Linked DNA regions of Homo sapiens. The protein of the gene in region 1 interacts with the protein of each later gene in a pairwise test. Each region holds a gene or a part of one and is shown in the gene's direction. Other genes may lie near its edges.

Region 1 (7,136 bases):
ACACCTCCTCTTCTCTGATAAAGGCTGGGGGGTGATGCCCCTCCCCCAGTTTCCCAATAAAGCTATGCAAGACAGGAGCAAGGGATCTCACGGCCTGTTTTTGCTACAAAAACCCTTTTTCGGAAAAAATAATAAAGAAAGGAATCAGCCAATCCCTCCTCGATGCCATCACCTCTTCTCGGTGATTTTTCGGGGAAGGAGTGGGTGGGTTGCTATGGCAACAGATGCGAGCTCGTCTCAGTAAAGAAGGGACCTTGATATTTTTTTCTCTCTCTCATTCTCTCAGTTGTGTGTGTGTGCGTGCATGTGTATGTGCGCCTGTGTGTGTGTGCATGCGCGCTACACATGCCTGTGCCCACACCAGGAATTTTTTTTTTTTAGAACTAAAGAAAGCCCTTCTCTTCTCTCAGCTCTCCAAATATGGAGTGATGGAAAACCACTTACTCCTGCAGGCCAGGGAGAATTCAGGATGATTCAAGAGAAAAGGGAGAGGTCATGTGGGGCTCCTTTCCTCCATGTTTTTACTAGAGATTGCATGCAACAAGAGAGCTTTGCAAATGGTTAGGGGGCCTTTGGAAAGAGGAGAAGATGTTAGGTGGAAAGAGGTGAGCAAGATATAGATGGTGCAGGAACTCAACGGGTGACCTCAGAGAGGGCAACAGAAGCTATATTGAGTCTGGGGACGCATGTACATCCCACCACACCATCAGATGCTGAAAGACCCAGAGCAGACTCAGATATGGACACAAACACAGACACTGACAGAAAGGCATATGGAAAATTGTAGACATAAATACACACAGGCACAAACATAGAACTGCACAGAACATAGGAAGTTGGAGACAAAAAAAAAAGACAAGCATAGATGCAGGCATAGGTAAACATAGATATACAGGGGTACAGACTCGCAGCTACAAAGACACATGCAAACAGATAGAGATGTAGACATCCAACCACCTCCAGACAGGTTTGGAGGCAGACACACAGGACACACAAACACAGTCTCAGTCAAATGAACACACACACACACAAACACACAGACACACACACAGAGTCTGGCTCTTTTCCTTCAATTGCCCAAGCATCCTTGAGCAGTAGTGCATAGCTGAGGATGCTGCACGCTTGCCCAGTAGGTTTGGCTGAGAGGCTTGCTCTCCCATTCCTTCTACACGCTCACCCCAAAGCCCCTCTCCCAATTCACTCCCTTGCCCACTTTCCCACAGCCAGCAGGCTCTGATGCCTCCCCCATCTCAGGCTTCTAATTCTTAGCTTGTTCTGCTGCTGCCTGCCACTTGGGGGAGAGAGTGGGGTGACTCAGCCAGGCCAGGATGACTCACACTGCCAGTATTTTTAGCAGCGGCCAGGAGCTCTCTAGTGTGCCAGCCGCCCCCCTCCTCCTGCTTGCTATTTCGGAACCGTCACTGGTGATATAAATAGCTCCTCTCCCACGGCCTGAAGCTGCTGCCAAGCTATTTTTGGTTCTGCACAGTTAAAAATAGCTTCACGGAGGTGGGAGGCAAGGGGAGTGGGAGCTGGCCTAGGGAGAGGAGACATTGGGGCACACAGAGCTTCTCAACTTGAATCAGAGTGGGCGAACTAGGATGAGCCCTTCTCTACCCCCTCCCTTGTCCCTTTCTAGACCCTTCTTCCCTTCCAAAGTGTTTCTTCCCATTCCATTCTCCTGGAAAAAGCCAGGGGCTCTTCCCCTGAGCCCAGTTCTCCTCCCTTGCTTACTTCACCCTTAGAGCCCAGAAATCTTGGCCCCCTGCAAACCCTCCATATTCATTCACAGAGAATAAGGGGACAGTCAAAGAGTAGGCTCACTCTGAGGCCTGTGGGTACCCAAGCCCTACGTCGATGTCCCCGGCAAACCGTAGCATGACTTCCATGGTGACTCTTTCAGCACCACGGACAGCGGTCGGCGCAGTATTCCTTCACTGCAGATTCGCTCAGATTGCTGGAGGCCATGACACCCAGCCAGTAGACTCCTCTTATTGTGGAGGGGGACACTCAGAATGCCTCACAGGCAGCTTTAGCATCAGTGAATGAAGAACACAGGAACAACCCCCCTGGAATTTCATACGGAAGGGGATCCAAAGATCAAGGGATTGTTCAAATGGAAGATTGAGAGAGGGGTGGGTAGGTACATTAGAGGTCAGATTGAGAAGAAAGAAGCAACACAGACCCATGTCCAGGAGGAATCATCTCTCTGTCATCCAGGTCAATGGGGTTAGAGACAGTGGCAGACAGATAAGCGGACATCGTTCCCTCCACCTCAGCTGTGACACTGACCACAGGATGGCCCCAACCTCTGCCAAAATGCATAAGACACCAGAATAGGGTCTCCACACCTTGTACACCTCTTCTAAGACATACTTCTCCTCAGCCGCCTCTCCTCCCACTCTACCTCTCTTACTACCACCCCTTTCCATGAGGAGCGGAGAGTTCCCTGGCCCCAAATTGTCCTTTTTGATGTCAAAGTTCATCTCCATGCTTCCTGTGTGACTGGGACTTCCCAGTCCCACCCTCCAATTTTTAAGTGGCCTCATTTCCAGCCACTTAAGTGATTCCATGCGCACACAGCTACTCCATCAAACGAGATTTCAGATAAGAACATTCCCTAGCCCACTTGCTTCTTGCATTATTGAATCCCAGGATAAGAACGGCACATCCTCGCCCCTGTAGAGAGCAATCATCTGTGGTGAAAAGAGAAAAAAAGCGGGTGTGTGGGGGGGTGGGGATAGGGCAAAGGTGACAGGATATGAAAAGGATAGAAAAGGATATGAAAGGACAGAAAAAGAAACGAAGGTGGAAAGTGGAGAGCTGAAGGTGGAGAGGCAGAGCCAGGAGCCTTAGAGGCGCAAATGTGGAGAGGGGTGGAGGGAACCTGGCAAAAATACAGGGTCCCTGGTAGGTGCAGGGGTCATGGAGGGTCCGGCGCTGCCCCTTCGCTTCTCAGCTGCTCCCCCATCTTGCCCGCCTAGGCAGGGCGGGGAGCCCTCCGGAGCGGTGCGGAGGCAGCCAGGCCCCGCCCGCCGCAGCCGCGGCAGCCGCCGGAGGATTCCTGTCCTAATATGGAGCTGGGATTCCCCCGGCCCCGCCCCCGCCCCCGGCCCGCGGGGAGACAGAGGCTGGCAGCAGGGCGGGGGGAAGCGCTCGCTTGGGGGCCGGCAACGGGGGGAAGGGATGCCTAAGTGCAGACCCAGGTCCTCGCCGTGCCCCCACGTCCCTGCCTCAGTTTCCCCTTCAGTAAGGTTAATTAGCTGAGAGGGAAACCACGAATCACTGCAGACTACAGCGCTGATGTTGGTTTCTATTCTTGGCTGTGGGAAAACAGGATCAACGCCAAATTCAGCTGGTCCCTTTCCCACCGGACTCCCTTTCCACCCATCCTCGGGACTTAGACCCCCATGAACACCCCCTGATAAGCCGCCAAGGCCCGATTTGGGAAGCGGGGGCGGGAATTTGTTCTCTAAAAATGGCCAAGGGAATCCCAGGTTAAATAGTCCCCAGAGAGGAACCCCAGCAGTGACCTGTCCCACGGAGGCCAAGGAAAGTCCTCCTTCCCTGCATGTGAACGTGACCTTGTCTGTCAAGTAACGAGGGGGATTTGTAGACAACCCTGTTCTTCCCCATTCCCTCAACTCCTCAGAAAAATTAGTGTCAGTGCCGGCCCCTCTCTGCCCTCTGCGGACTCCTGCCGCGGGCTTCAGGCCGCCCTAAACCTGGCCCTGTCGCTTCCCTCAACTGAACGCATTCAGACGCCAGGGTCCCCACACTCCATTCAAGCTTTCCTAACGCAGCGCCTTCCTCTCCGCTCAGCTCCCGCCAGGCTTGGCCCCCTCCGCAGCCTCCTGCTCCCCCCTCGCCCGCCTCCCTCCCTCTCTCATTCTACGTCATGAGATGACGTCGGAAGCCGGGCGGGAGGAGGAGCCCCCCTCCCCAGTCAGCGGCTCCCGCTGCAGCTTGCTTAGCCCAGCCTCCCGCTCTCCCGCCCCCCCGGCTCTAAAACGAGCCCCCCACGCCTGGCAGGAGCTATATAAGGCGGCGTGAGGCAGGCGAGGGGGGCAGCGCAGCCGAGCGGAGCCCAGGAGAGCAGAGAGCGAGCCTGAGCGAGAGACGGGGAAGCACGGAGGAGGAAGCCGCCGGTGCGTCGGGACGGGAGCGCAGGTGCTCGGGCACCCGAGCTGGAGCTCCGCAGCCGCCGGTCATGTACCGCTCCACCAAGGGCGCCTCCAAGGCGCGCCGGGACCAGATCAACGCCGAGATCCGGAACCTCAAGGAGCTGCTGCCGCTGGCCGAAGCGGACAAGGTCCGGCTGTCCTACCTGCACATCATGAGCCTCGCCTGCATCTACACTCGCAAGGGCGTCTTCTTCGCTGGTGGTGAGCATGCTGGGGCTACCGCAGATCCGAGCTGCCAGGCGCCGGAGACCCTGGAGCTGAGGGAACCCGCTGGGGCTGTCGCATGTCTAGGGCAGCGTGCTGGCGAGCTGGGGAGATTCGGGACTCGGGAGATTCGGGACTTTCTACTTTTCCTCCTGAGCTCCCTCCAGACCTCACCTTAGTTCTGAATGAGAGTTAGAGAGCCTGGACGGTGTCCCTAACACCAGATTATGAGAGGATAAGAGCCAGGACAGAGCGGCCTCGGTGCCCGCCAGTGCAGAAGCGCTCCGGGAGCCGGGGAGGGAAGCCCGGGAAGTTGCAGGGATGGAGCTGCCTGAGCCTAGGGGAACATAGCTACTGTCCGCGGTGCTGAAAGGGATCTCCTGTCGCCTTCGGGGCGCTGCCCATGGTGCTGACGGCTGCGCCGGCCGTGTATGGCTCTGTCCATGGTTCTGAACCCACAGTCGGCTTCGGAGCTCTGTCCGCGGTTCTGAAATTCAGAGCCGCTTTGGAGCTCTGTCCGCGGTTCTGAAATTAAGAGCCGAGAGGAGCCGACCCCGCTTTAGAAGTCGAGGGCTTGTGGGCTATGGAGATACAGCAACAGGTTCCCTGGCCAAGAGCTGCGGGCAGCGGGTCAACAGGTGTTTGCAGAGGCAGGTCCATGAGAAATTCCTCTGGATTCTCTGAAACTCAGACCATGCCTTCCTCACTTCTTCTCTGCCTCCCAGTCTTACTCCTGACGCACTACGTCTTCTCGCCCTACAGGCACTCCTCTGGCGGGCCCCACGGGGCTTCTCTCAGCTCAAGAGCTTGAGGACATCGTAGCGGCACTACCCGGCTTTCTGCTTGTGTTCACAGCCGAGGGGAAATTGCTCTACCTGTCTGAGAGTGTGAGCGAGCATCTGGGCCACTCCATGGTGAGTGCTAAGGGTCCTTTCAGCTGAGGCTGGGCATGGAGTGGGTGCCGTGAGCCTTCCACTCCTGAGGAACTGGGAATTACTATGGAGGGAGAGGTTATACCCTACAAGATACTGTAGATCAAAGATTGGCTCCTGCTGTTCTCCCTAATGGTCATCTCTTCTTTTCCTCCCTCCAGGTGGACCTGGTTGCCCAGGGTGACAGCATCTACGACATCATTGACCCAGCTGACCACCTCACTGTGCGCCAGCAACTCACCCTGCCCTCTGCCCTGGACACTGGTAAGGACTCCCTTCTCCCTTCCTCGGTCCAATTTCCCACCTGCTGCCCTTCTCCCCACCATCCACTGTCTCTCTCTCAGCCACTCACCCTCTTATCTGTTTTTCTCTTCATCTATCTAGATCGCCTCTTCCGCTGCCGCTTCAACACCTCCAAGTCCCTCAGGCGCCAGAGTGCAGGCAACAAACTCGTGCTTATTCGAGGCCGATTCCATGCTCACCCACCTGGAGCCTACTGGGCAGGAAATCCCGTGTTCACAGCTTTCTGTGCCCCTCTGGAGCCGAGACCCCGCCCAGGTCCTGGCCCTGGCCCTGGCCCTGCCTCGCTCTTCCTGGCCATGTTCCAGAGCCGCCATGCTAAAGACCTGGCTCTACTGGACATCTCCGAGAGGTAAGCCTGGAGTGTTCAGATTCCAAGAGAAAGGCAGGCCAGAGATGAAGGGACCCTAGATTCTGGAGTCAGGGGCAGGGAGGATGGGGTTTAGGGGGGCAGAGGATCTGGGAGGGAGTGAGATGCATGGGTATCAAGCAAGGAAAACAGAAAGCTGACCTCACCCTTTCCACCTTCCCAGTGTCCTAATCTACCTGGGCTTTGAGCGCAGTGAACTGCTTTGTAAATCATGGTATGGACTGCTGCACCCCGAGGACCTGGCCCACGCTTCTGCTCAACACTACCGCCTGTGTGAGTGTCCAGAGAGGCTGGGGACAAGATAGCAAGCTGGGAAAGGGCATGGGAGACCAGACAAAGAATGATCTGTAGTCAAGAGTGATGCTGGGGAGATAACAGAGGCCAACAGTTTCGGATGCTATAGGGTGAACATGAAGGTGAGGATTCAAGGCAATAATCAAATCAGAACTGGGGGACTCTGAGTGGTGAGGTCAAGGTAGAGAGCTGAGTGGTTCAGGTGAGGGTAGTCAGAAGAGAGGATGTCACGGCTATCTCAATTCAGTGGAGAGGTGACCAAGGGTGGGGAGTAGGTAGAATTGCCTGGTGGACATCCTAACTCTGCATCTTCTTTCTCCCCAGTGGCTGAGAGTGGAGATATTCAGGCAGAGATGGTGGTGAGGCTACAGGCCAAGACTGGAGGCTGGGCATGGATTTACTGCCTGTTATACTCAGAAGGTCCAGAGGGACCCATTACTGCCAATAACTACCCAATCAGGTAAGCCACAAGCCAGGGGACTAGGGGGCAGCTGAGGTCGTCATGGAGGAGACACAAATCAGGGAACTGCTCTGGATATGGACGTCGGACCCTTACCAGCTGCCTCTTCTCTCCTCTCCAGTGACATGGAAGCCTGGAGCCTCCGCCAGCAGTTGAACTCTGAAGACACCCAGGCAGCTTATGTCCTGGGCACTCCGACCATGCTGCCCTCATTCCCTGAAAACATTCTTTCCCAGGAAGAGTGCTCCAGCACTAACCCACTCTTCACCGCAGCACTGGGGGCTCCCAGAAGCACCAGCTTCCCCAGTGCTCCTGAACTGAGTGTTGTCTCTGCATCAGAAGAGCTTCCCCGACCCTCCAAAGAACTGGACTTCAGTTACCTGACATTCCCT
Region 2 (8,037 bases), on another chromosome or scaffold:
GCTCATAGTATTTCTTTGTTTTACACCATCTCTTAGAAAGCTCAGCATCACCCAGGTGAATGCACAGTCATTCTTAGGTCCTTTCCCTTTCACTTCCAGCTCCCCTTCAAGGTGGTGTCTAGGTGGTCAAGGAGGGAGTGGTGGGAGAAAAGGGAGCCTTAGAGCCTTGCCCGCCTCCATTCTGAGGGGCTGGGATGGTCATTTGGCTGGTGAAAATTAAGGTATCTTTAGGAAGACTCACACTGAGAGCTGATATCTGTGGCCTTGGTTTGGGGCCTTGTTCATTCAATCTTGCCTACTATAGCCTTTTAGTCCTCACCCAGATATCTGTTAATTTAGACCCTCAATGCCTTCATGTCTCCTCACCTGTGGGACACCTAGCATACTTCACAGAGCCACGAGGAGCCAGGAGTGCCATATAAAGCCCAGCTTTGCAGCTACATCCTTCGATCCCTGCAGAACCACCCTGTGTGTTATCTTCCCCAAGACTCCCACATGGGTGGTGGCCAGAAACCCCTCTGCTTTTGGCTATTCCATCAGCTGCCTTGATATACCTTCCACGGAAACTAGAGCACCTGGGTCTGACTGCCTGTTTCCCCTCCCACCCTCCTTCCTTCCTTCTCTCCACTCTCCATGAAGGTAAAGCACGACAAGCTTCCCCTTCCTATCTCTGTGGGACAGAGACTTGCCATACTTTTCTTCTTCCCTCTGCAATACTATCACAATACATTTTAAAGTCTCTAAAGTGTATACAGCACACACATTACTTCCTTCAATGTCATCTTCACCAAAACTCAGCACAGTAGGTAACATCATCCCCATTTTCCAGGTGAGGAAAGTGAGACTTAGAGAAGTTTCATGAAGTGACAGAGCAAAAACCTACACCACACTTTCGCTTCAAAGGCTGGTGCTTATGCCTTTTTGTATAAAACTAACATCTCATCCACATTTGATCTGTTATAAGTCCATGATTCTTGGTGTAAAGGAGAGACTTGATAGAGAAGAAGGCAGGGGTGGGGGCTGGGGGTAGTGCCTGGACAGACAATCCGTGGGCAGTTGTCACCTGTGTAGAAATAAAGATAAGGAGGTAGCAGTGGGGATAACACAGACCCATGAGCCTTTATCTCCAGCAAAGAGAGAGAGAGAAGTTAGAAAGAATGGAGGAGGAAGGAAGGGTTGAGAGGAGACATATAAATGGAGAGAAAGCCTGTGGTTATATCCATGGCAGCCCTACCATGCCTCTCCTTCTGCAGAAGCCCATGCGTTCATTCCTGGTTTCTTCATATCTTAAAGTGAAGTTAAAAGAACATAAAATTAGCCAGGCATGGTGGCTCACGCCTGTAATCCCAGCATTTTGGGAGGCCGAGGTGGGCGGATCACGAGGTCAGAAGATCAAGACCATCCTGGCCAACATGGTGAAATCCCATCTCTACTAAAAATACAAAAATTAGCTGGGAGTGTTTGGTGGGGGGTGCACCTGTAATCCCAGCTACTTGGGAGGCTGAGGCAGGAGAATTGGTTGAACCAGGGAGTTGGAGGTTGCAGTGAGCTGAGATCACTCCATTGCACTCTAGCCTGGTGACAAAGCGAGACTCCATCTAAAAAAAAAAAAACAAAACAAAAAACAAAAACAAATAAACAAAAAACCGGGTGCAGTGGCTCACGCCTGTAATCCCAGCACTTTGGGAGGCCAAGGCAGATGGATCACCTGAGGTCAGGAGTTTGAGACCAGCCTGACCAACATGGAGAAACCCCGTCTCTACTAAAAATACAAAATTAGCTGGATATGGTGGTGCATGTCTGTAATCCAGCTACTCAGGAGGCTGAGGAAGGAGAATTGCTTGAACCTGGGAGGCAGAGGTTGTGGGGAGCCAGGATTGCACCATTGCACTCCAGCCTGGGCAACAAGAGTGAAACTCCGTCTCAAAAAAAAAAAAAAGATAAAATTGCCTTGGATCATTATATATTATACAATGGAAATCCTTTGTCTCGAGTATTAGGACTTAAAGGGATATGAAGCAGAACTCAGGTGGCTGCTTTCTCCCATCAAGTTAAAAAAAAAAAAAAAGAAGAAAGAAAGAAAGGCTGTGGACCCTGGTACACATTAGCACAGCAGCTGGTCAACTCTGGTCATTTCTAGGAGCGCTGTGCTCAGAATCGTGTGCTATGGGCCCGGTGGATCTGCATTAATCTTTTCAAAAATGCAAATCTCAGCTTCAAATTCAACAGCCTCCTCTGGAATTTCAAAGAGTTCTGGGTTGTTTAAAGGTTGAGTGGAATTCCTGAGCCTGTGTTAACTGGTCACAGTCTACTGACTCTCATAATTAGCGCAAGACCACTGTGTTGTGTAAATGCCACTCAGTATTCAACAATGACTAACCACTCCATTTCAGATTGTTTACTTAAGTGGGGGGCTTTCATCCACAATCAGTGTTTCTGAGCATTTAACCTATTTAATACTGAGAGACGAGAGAGAAGGCGAGTTGCCCATTTCTCTATTTCTTCCCCTACACCCTAACCGCTCCCCAACTCCAGCCACCAAATCCCAGTATTGTGCGTAGCCCAGTTCTAAGTCTTGTCTGGCTATTAAGCTGCATGACGTTGGCTACCCTGAGCCTCAGTTTCCTTATCTGCAAACTCCAGGGGCAGAATTGGATGATGTCGAAGGTCCTTTCTACCTCTGAAATACACTGACTGGGGGAGAAGATGAAATGTCTCCTTTGTGAAAATCTAAACGTATTTATTACGTACCAAAAACCACAGCACGGCCGACTCCAGACTTGGGAAGTGTCTAGCAGTTGTCCACGTGTCGCCTGTCTTTTATTGCAATGGACCAGTGCAAGAAGTAGGAAGCTTGAGCAAGATCCAGTTTTAAAGATATCAGCCGAGTAACATTTAGAAAAATGGGCAGAACACAACAGCAGAGTAAGAAAGTAAAACTTGTCAACAAATTTGTATGGTTAAATGTGTGTGTGCGTAAGAGTCATGTTCACTCATATTTTATTTTTTAGGGATGATATTAGAACTGTATTTGGAGACAAAATGAGCCATGGGTCCTGGCTGAAATGCTAAACTGATACATAAACACCAAGGAGAGGAACTTGCTTCCTTCTAAGGGGTGTGGAAAGTTGGAGAATAAAAGAGCCTCGTGGGATAGGGGGCAGTGATGCCAAGTGCTATTTATGGGCTATTTATGGGCCACCAGAGATTGAACTGCCTGTGGGGAGAAGGATCCAGAAGGGACTCTGGGTAGCAGAAATATCTGAGATGGAGTTTTACCTTTTTTGATGTGGAGTGAGTGAAGAGAGCCTCCTCTTTTACTTTCCTTAAGAAATCTTCAGTCCAGTATACGTTATACATTAATTAAGTTGGTATTTTGAGTGTGTTGCTTTTCGGGGTATGTAGAAGAGAGGCTGAATTCTCATTTGGCTTGATGTTGGAATCAGGAACAGTCAACTTTGATACGGGGCACAAGAGCGGGCCATAGCTGATACCCTGGTTTCTCTGTCTGGGCCTGGCCTATCTTGTGGCTGGGTGCACACCTGCTTTATTTTTTACTTGAAATGTCTTCTTTTTCCACCTGTCCTACTCATGTCTTCAAAGCCTAATTTTCATTTTCCCTGATCACTCCACCTCCTCTCTGCCCTCATTCATTCATTAGTGACTACAGGCTGGAGATGCCAATTTCAGGGCTTCTGCCCTAAGCCCCCAAGGGAGCTGTGTGCTTCTTGAGTGCAGATACTTTGTTTCACTCTTCCCCACTCTACCCCCCAAACCAGAAGAACAGAGCTCCTGTTTCTTCCTTTCCATGGTAGGCCCAACACCTGGCTTTGTGCCTGGCACACAGCAGACATTCAACATTTGTAGAACTGATAGACTATTAGATTAGTAGTGACAAATACTCCCCGAAGAAAATGCTTATTTGAACATACATCCCAAATTTTCTGCCCTCCAGAAAATGCTTCCTTGGAAGGATTTAAGACAGTTTGATGTCTCTGCAAACATTATCTGCGTTTAGGGACCAACTTGCCCTTCTCAGCGTTCACCTGGGATGTCTTTATTCTTCCATTTAACCTTTACAGGGGACCCCGATGGTGACGTGTCCTTCCTAGGGGCCATTACCTCTCTCAGGGATCCTAGTGTCTGGTAGAAAACAACAGCTCCAAGTTCTCTGCATCCAAACTTCGCCAGGATACGCAGATAAACCTATTTAAAAAAAAAAATCTTTTTAAATTCTCAACTTGGTGGTGTAAATAAGGCCCTTGCAGCGCCCTCAAGTAATAATCAACGGCAGTCATTATGGAAGGAGGGTAGAGATGAGCGCCTTACTCAAAGCCAAGACATTCACAATTTCTCGGGCCGGCTGCCTGTGCCTGGGCGTGTGCACTGTGCACTCCGAAGCTGTGTGCGGCGGTGGCCTTGGAGGTGCGCGTGGCCTTAGGAATTCCCGCGGTCGGGCACCCTCCGCTTAACACCGGGCCGTGTCCCCGGCCTGGGAGCCGAGCAGCGCGGCTCTGGCATGCTAAGTGGGCAGCACTGGGGCGCCTTTGTTCCTCGCGGCCGTCTCCCAGGACCGGCTTCCCTCTGAATCTAAATGGGCTTCTCCCTCACCCGCTCCGCCCTGGCCTCCTGGCCTGGGCACGGCGCCCCTGGGTAAAGCGCGCCCGGACACCTGGGGCGTGGGCGTGCGGGGGCAGCCCGGGCTAGGCGAGCGCGGGAGAGGCGCCTGCGGTCCCAGCCCGGCCAGGCCCGAGCACCTGCGCGAGCCCGAGGGAGCGCCCGGCCCTCTGCCCCCGCCAGTCGCCGGCGCCCAACTTGGGGGTCCCGCCGTCCGCAGCCCCAAGTCTCGCGGTGCTACCGCTCTGACCGGGGAGCCGCGGGCCGGGCGCCCCCCGCCGCGCGACAAAGGCTGAACCGGGAGGAGGAGGCCGAGGAGGGGGAGGAGGAGGAGAGAAAGGCGGGGACGGCGAGCGGCCGCGGCGGCGGGGAGAGCGGAGGGAGCGCCGCCCGCCCGCGCCGTCCTTTGTGTGGCGGCGGCGGCGCCTGGGCCTGACCGGGTCCCCGGGGCTGAGCGCCGGGCTCCGCGCCGCCCCTCCCGCGCCCCTGCCAAGCGGGCGCCTATCCTCTCCGAGCAAGATGGCAACCCCGGCGGCGGTCAACCCTCCGGGTGAGTAGCGGCCTGGGCCCCGCCGCCCGCCGCAGCCCGCAGGCCTTGCCCGGGGCCGGAGCGGACCAGGCGCGCCGGGCGCCCCCGGGGGCGCGGAGCCGCAGCTCGGCGCGGTGGGTGGTGGAGCGGCTGTCACTACGCGGCAGCCGCAGCATCAGCACCAGAGCGGCATCTGCATCCCAATCGCTGCCCATCCGGTCCCGGGCAGGCGCCGGTCCGGACCCGCGGGCGGCCGGACGCTGGCCTCGCATCCTCGGGAACCCGAAGGGCAGGCCCGGGAGCCCCCGAAGTTCTGAAAATAACCGCCTTTGCCTTCCCCATCCCACGCATTTTTCTCTTCCGGTCCCGGCTTTTGTGGCATCACGGCGTCAGCCAGTCCTGGCTGGTGGAGGGCTCCGCGCTGACGGAGGGAAAAGTTTGGAGCTGGGATTCAACAGGGTACAACTCCCGGGACTCTCCCCTGCCCGCCCCGCCCACTAAGCGCTGGTCCTTTGCGCCCTTTGCGACTGGCTGCTGTGTGTCCTAACCCTCCGGGGGCACAAAACACCCAGCCTGTGGTCACCAGCGTGGAGCAGCCCTGGTCCTGCCCAGGTGACATCCTCTGCTTTCTGGTCTGACCTGTCCCCAGGGTGCAGTCTGTGACAACTGAGCTCATTAGGAAATATTTCAAAAATGGAAGAGTTCTTGATCAAGTGGCAACATTGACTTGTTTTGGTATTGTAGTAGGGAAGTTCCGTTTTCACTGGGAAAGTTCCCTACCTGATGAGCAGGGTGTGGGAGAAGAGAAACGTGAACATCTAAGCTAGTACAAACTTTTGGGTGTTGTGCAGAGGCTGCTGTGGGCACGGCAGGTTGCTGGGTCCCTGTGGAAGATGCAGGGAGAGTCACAGAGGGCGGCCCCCAGGAAATTCCCAGCAGAGGGAGGTCATGTGTTGGAGATAGGGAGGGTCGGGGGAGGAACAGCAATGCCTAGCAAAGAAAAGTGTCTCTCATCATAGAATTAGGAATGAAAGATCCCTTTCATCTAAGGCGGCCAGGGAAGGCTTCTGGAGATTGGACATTTCGGCTGAACCTTGAAAACGGGAATGTTTGAATATACAGAGCCAGTAGCAGAGGGGCATTGCAGGCGTAAGTAACAGTGGACTTGCTCTAAGCAAGTGCAGAGGTCAGTGAGTAGTTGGTGCACTGGGGATATAAGAGGCAGCAGTGGGATTTAACACTGAGTTGTTTGGATGTGACCAGGCTTTAAAGGACAGACTGAGGAGTATGGACTTTCTCTCTCCACATTAAGGGAGAGTCCTCTGCACACTTCCTAAGAACCAGAAAAATAAAATAAAATAGAAAAGAGAGAGAGAGACAGAGAGAGAGAGAGAGAGACCTCAATGGTATTGAACAAGGAAATCGCATGATCACTTTTTCTGGAAGACTGATTTGTCAGCTATGTCTAGGAAACATTCTAAGGAGGGAACAAGACTTGAGACAGGGAGGCCAGCATGAAATGAGGCAGGTGCTGGGGAGGCCAGAATTGGTGGCCATGGCTGGACCAGAGAGGAAGGAATGCACCACTGGGCGGGTAGAAGAGTTCCAGATTTGGCACTGATTAGATTTGGAGTAAGAGTAAAGGAGGAGGCCAAGGAGAGACAAAGGGGAGGTGTCCATGGAGACACCAAGGTGAAGAGCCTGTGTAATTCCAAGGAAGGCAGTTCCATCAGCAGAAATAGGGACTCTTGGAAGAACAGACAAGGAGGCCTCTGTCCAGAACACTGAGGAGGAACGTGGCTGGTCTGAAAACAAATCTGTGCCAGTTTGCCTGTGACTGAAGCTGCAATTTCAACCCATTCAACTACTTCAAAATCAATGGAAAATTGATAGATGTAAATGTTATGAAATTAGAAAAAGCAAAAGATGTTAAATGAAAACATTTTAGTCCAATATACACTGGGAACAGGAATAAAATCCCTGGTGATTTACATAATTTCTATGCCAGGACATCATTGTTTAAAACTTTTTTGTCCATTACATTGCTCCATGAGCTACATGGACTAAAGATCTAAAGATGGAGTAACTGCCCCTGGCCCCGTGGTGTGAAGCACAGGAAAGCCTGTGCCTGTGCCTTGGACTGCGGGAGACTTGAATGGTACAAGCATAGGGTATTGTTGGCGTTGCTAGTCAACACCTGGCCAGCTTGACAGATGCTTTTCTCTGTTGACAGCTATACCAGAGATCTTCAGCATGGTGATAATTTCTCAAGGGAAAATTCCTTGAGGTGATCACCTTTCCTTTTACCATCATTTCTTTTACTGGTCCCCTGAGGATGATCCGTGGGGATGTGTTATTATTGCCCCATGTGAATCTCCATCTTTTTCTTTGGGAGAAAGGGTTTAATTTTAAGGGACATGGCTCAGGGTTTGAGCCAAAGAGAGAGAGTTCAGATTCTATGGGCAATTTACAACAAAAAGAGCCATGGTACCCAAGCTTGTCACCCAGAGCCTACCTCACATGGGCTTGTGAGACTTCTTTGAATTCCTTTTTCTTCCTGCCTCCTTTCCCCAGATATGGTTGCTTTGCAAAGAATAAGAGCTTGGTAAACAGAACCAAATGGATGGGGAAGCACCAGGATTTATTTCTGCTGCTAGTTCGTGTCCAGGGTACAAAGGCCACAGCCAGTCACCTCCCCACGCCCCCACTTGTTCCTTTTTTCCCAGCTGACCACTTCACAACAGCAGAACCATTTACAATGACACTCTTCTGTGATGTGTAGTGGGGATTCTCTAGGGTCTTGTTGGTGACCGGTGATGTTGGGGTCTTCACGCTCATGTTACTCATGTTACTCTGTGGATATAATACAGGTCCAAATTTGGAATCTGCTC

The links. The genes of interacting proteins can lie anywhere in the genome.
Region 2: the proteins of NPAS4 (region 1) and ARNT2 interact in a two-hybrid assay, tested with the Homo sapiens proteins (one study listed by BioGRID).

What each region holds. Positions count from the first base shown.
Region 1 is NC_000011.10:66,416,970-66,424,105, forward strand, and holds the start of NPAS4 (neuronal PAS domain-containing protein 4), read left to right. Parts: upstream 1-4,210; coding exon 4,211-4,385; intron 4,386-5,150; coding exon 5,151-5,302; intron 5,303-5,481; coding exon 5,482-5,584; intron 5,585-5,704; coding exon 5,705-5,972; intron 5,973-6,153; coding exon 6,154-6,263; intron 6,264-6,270; exon of another isoform or gene 6,271-6,406; intron 6,407-6,608; coding exon 6,609-6,744; exon of another isoform or gene 6,745-6,865; coding exon 6,866-7,136. UniProt on the Homo sapiens protein: Transcription factor expressed in neurons of the brain that regulates the excitatory-inhibitory balance within neural circuits and is required for contextual memory in the hippocampus. Plays a key role in the structural and functional plasticity of neurons.
Region 2 is NC_000015.10:80,399,380-80,407,416, forward strand, and holds the start of ARNT2 (aryl hydrocarbon receptor nuclear translocator 2), read left to right. Parts: upstream 1-5,002; 5' UTR 5,003-5,136; coding exon 5,137-5,167; intron 5,168-8,037. UniProt on the Homo sapiens protein: Transcription factor that plays a role in the development of the hypothalamo-pituitary axis, postnatal brain growth, and visual and renal function. Specifically recognizes the xenobiotic response element (XRE).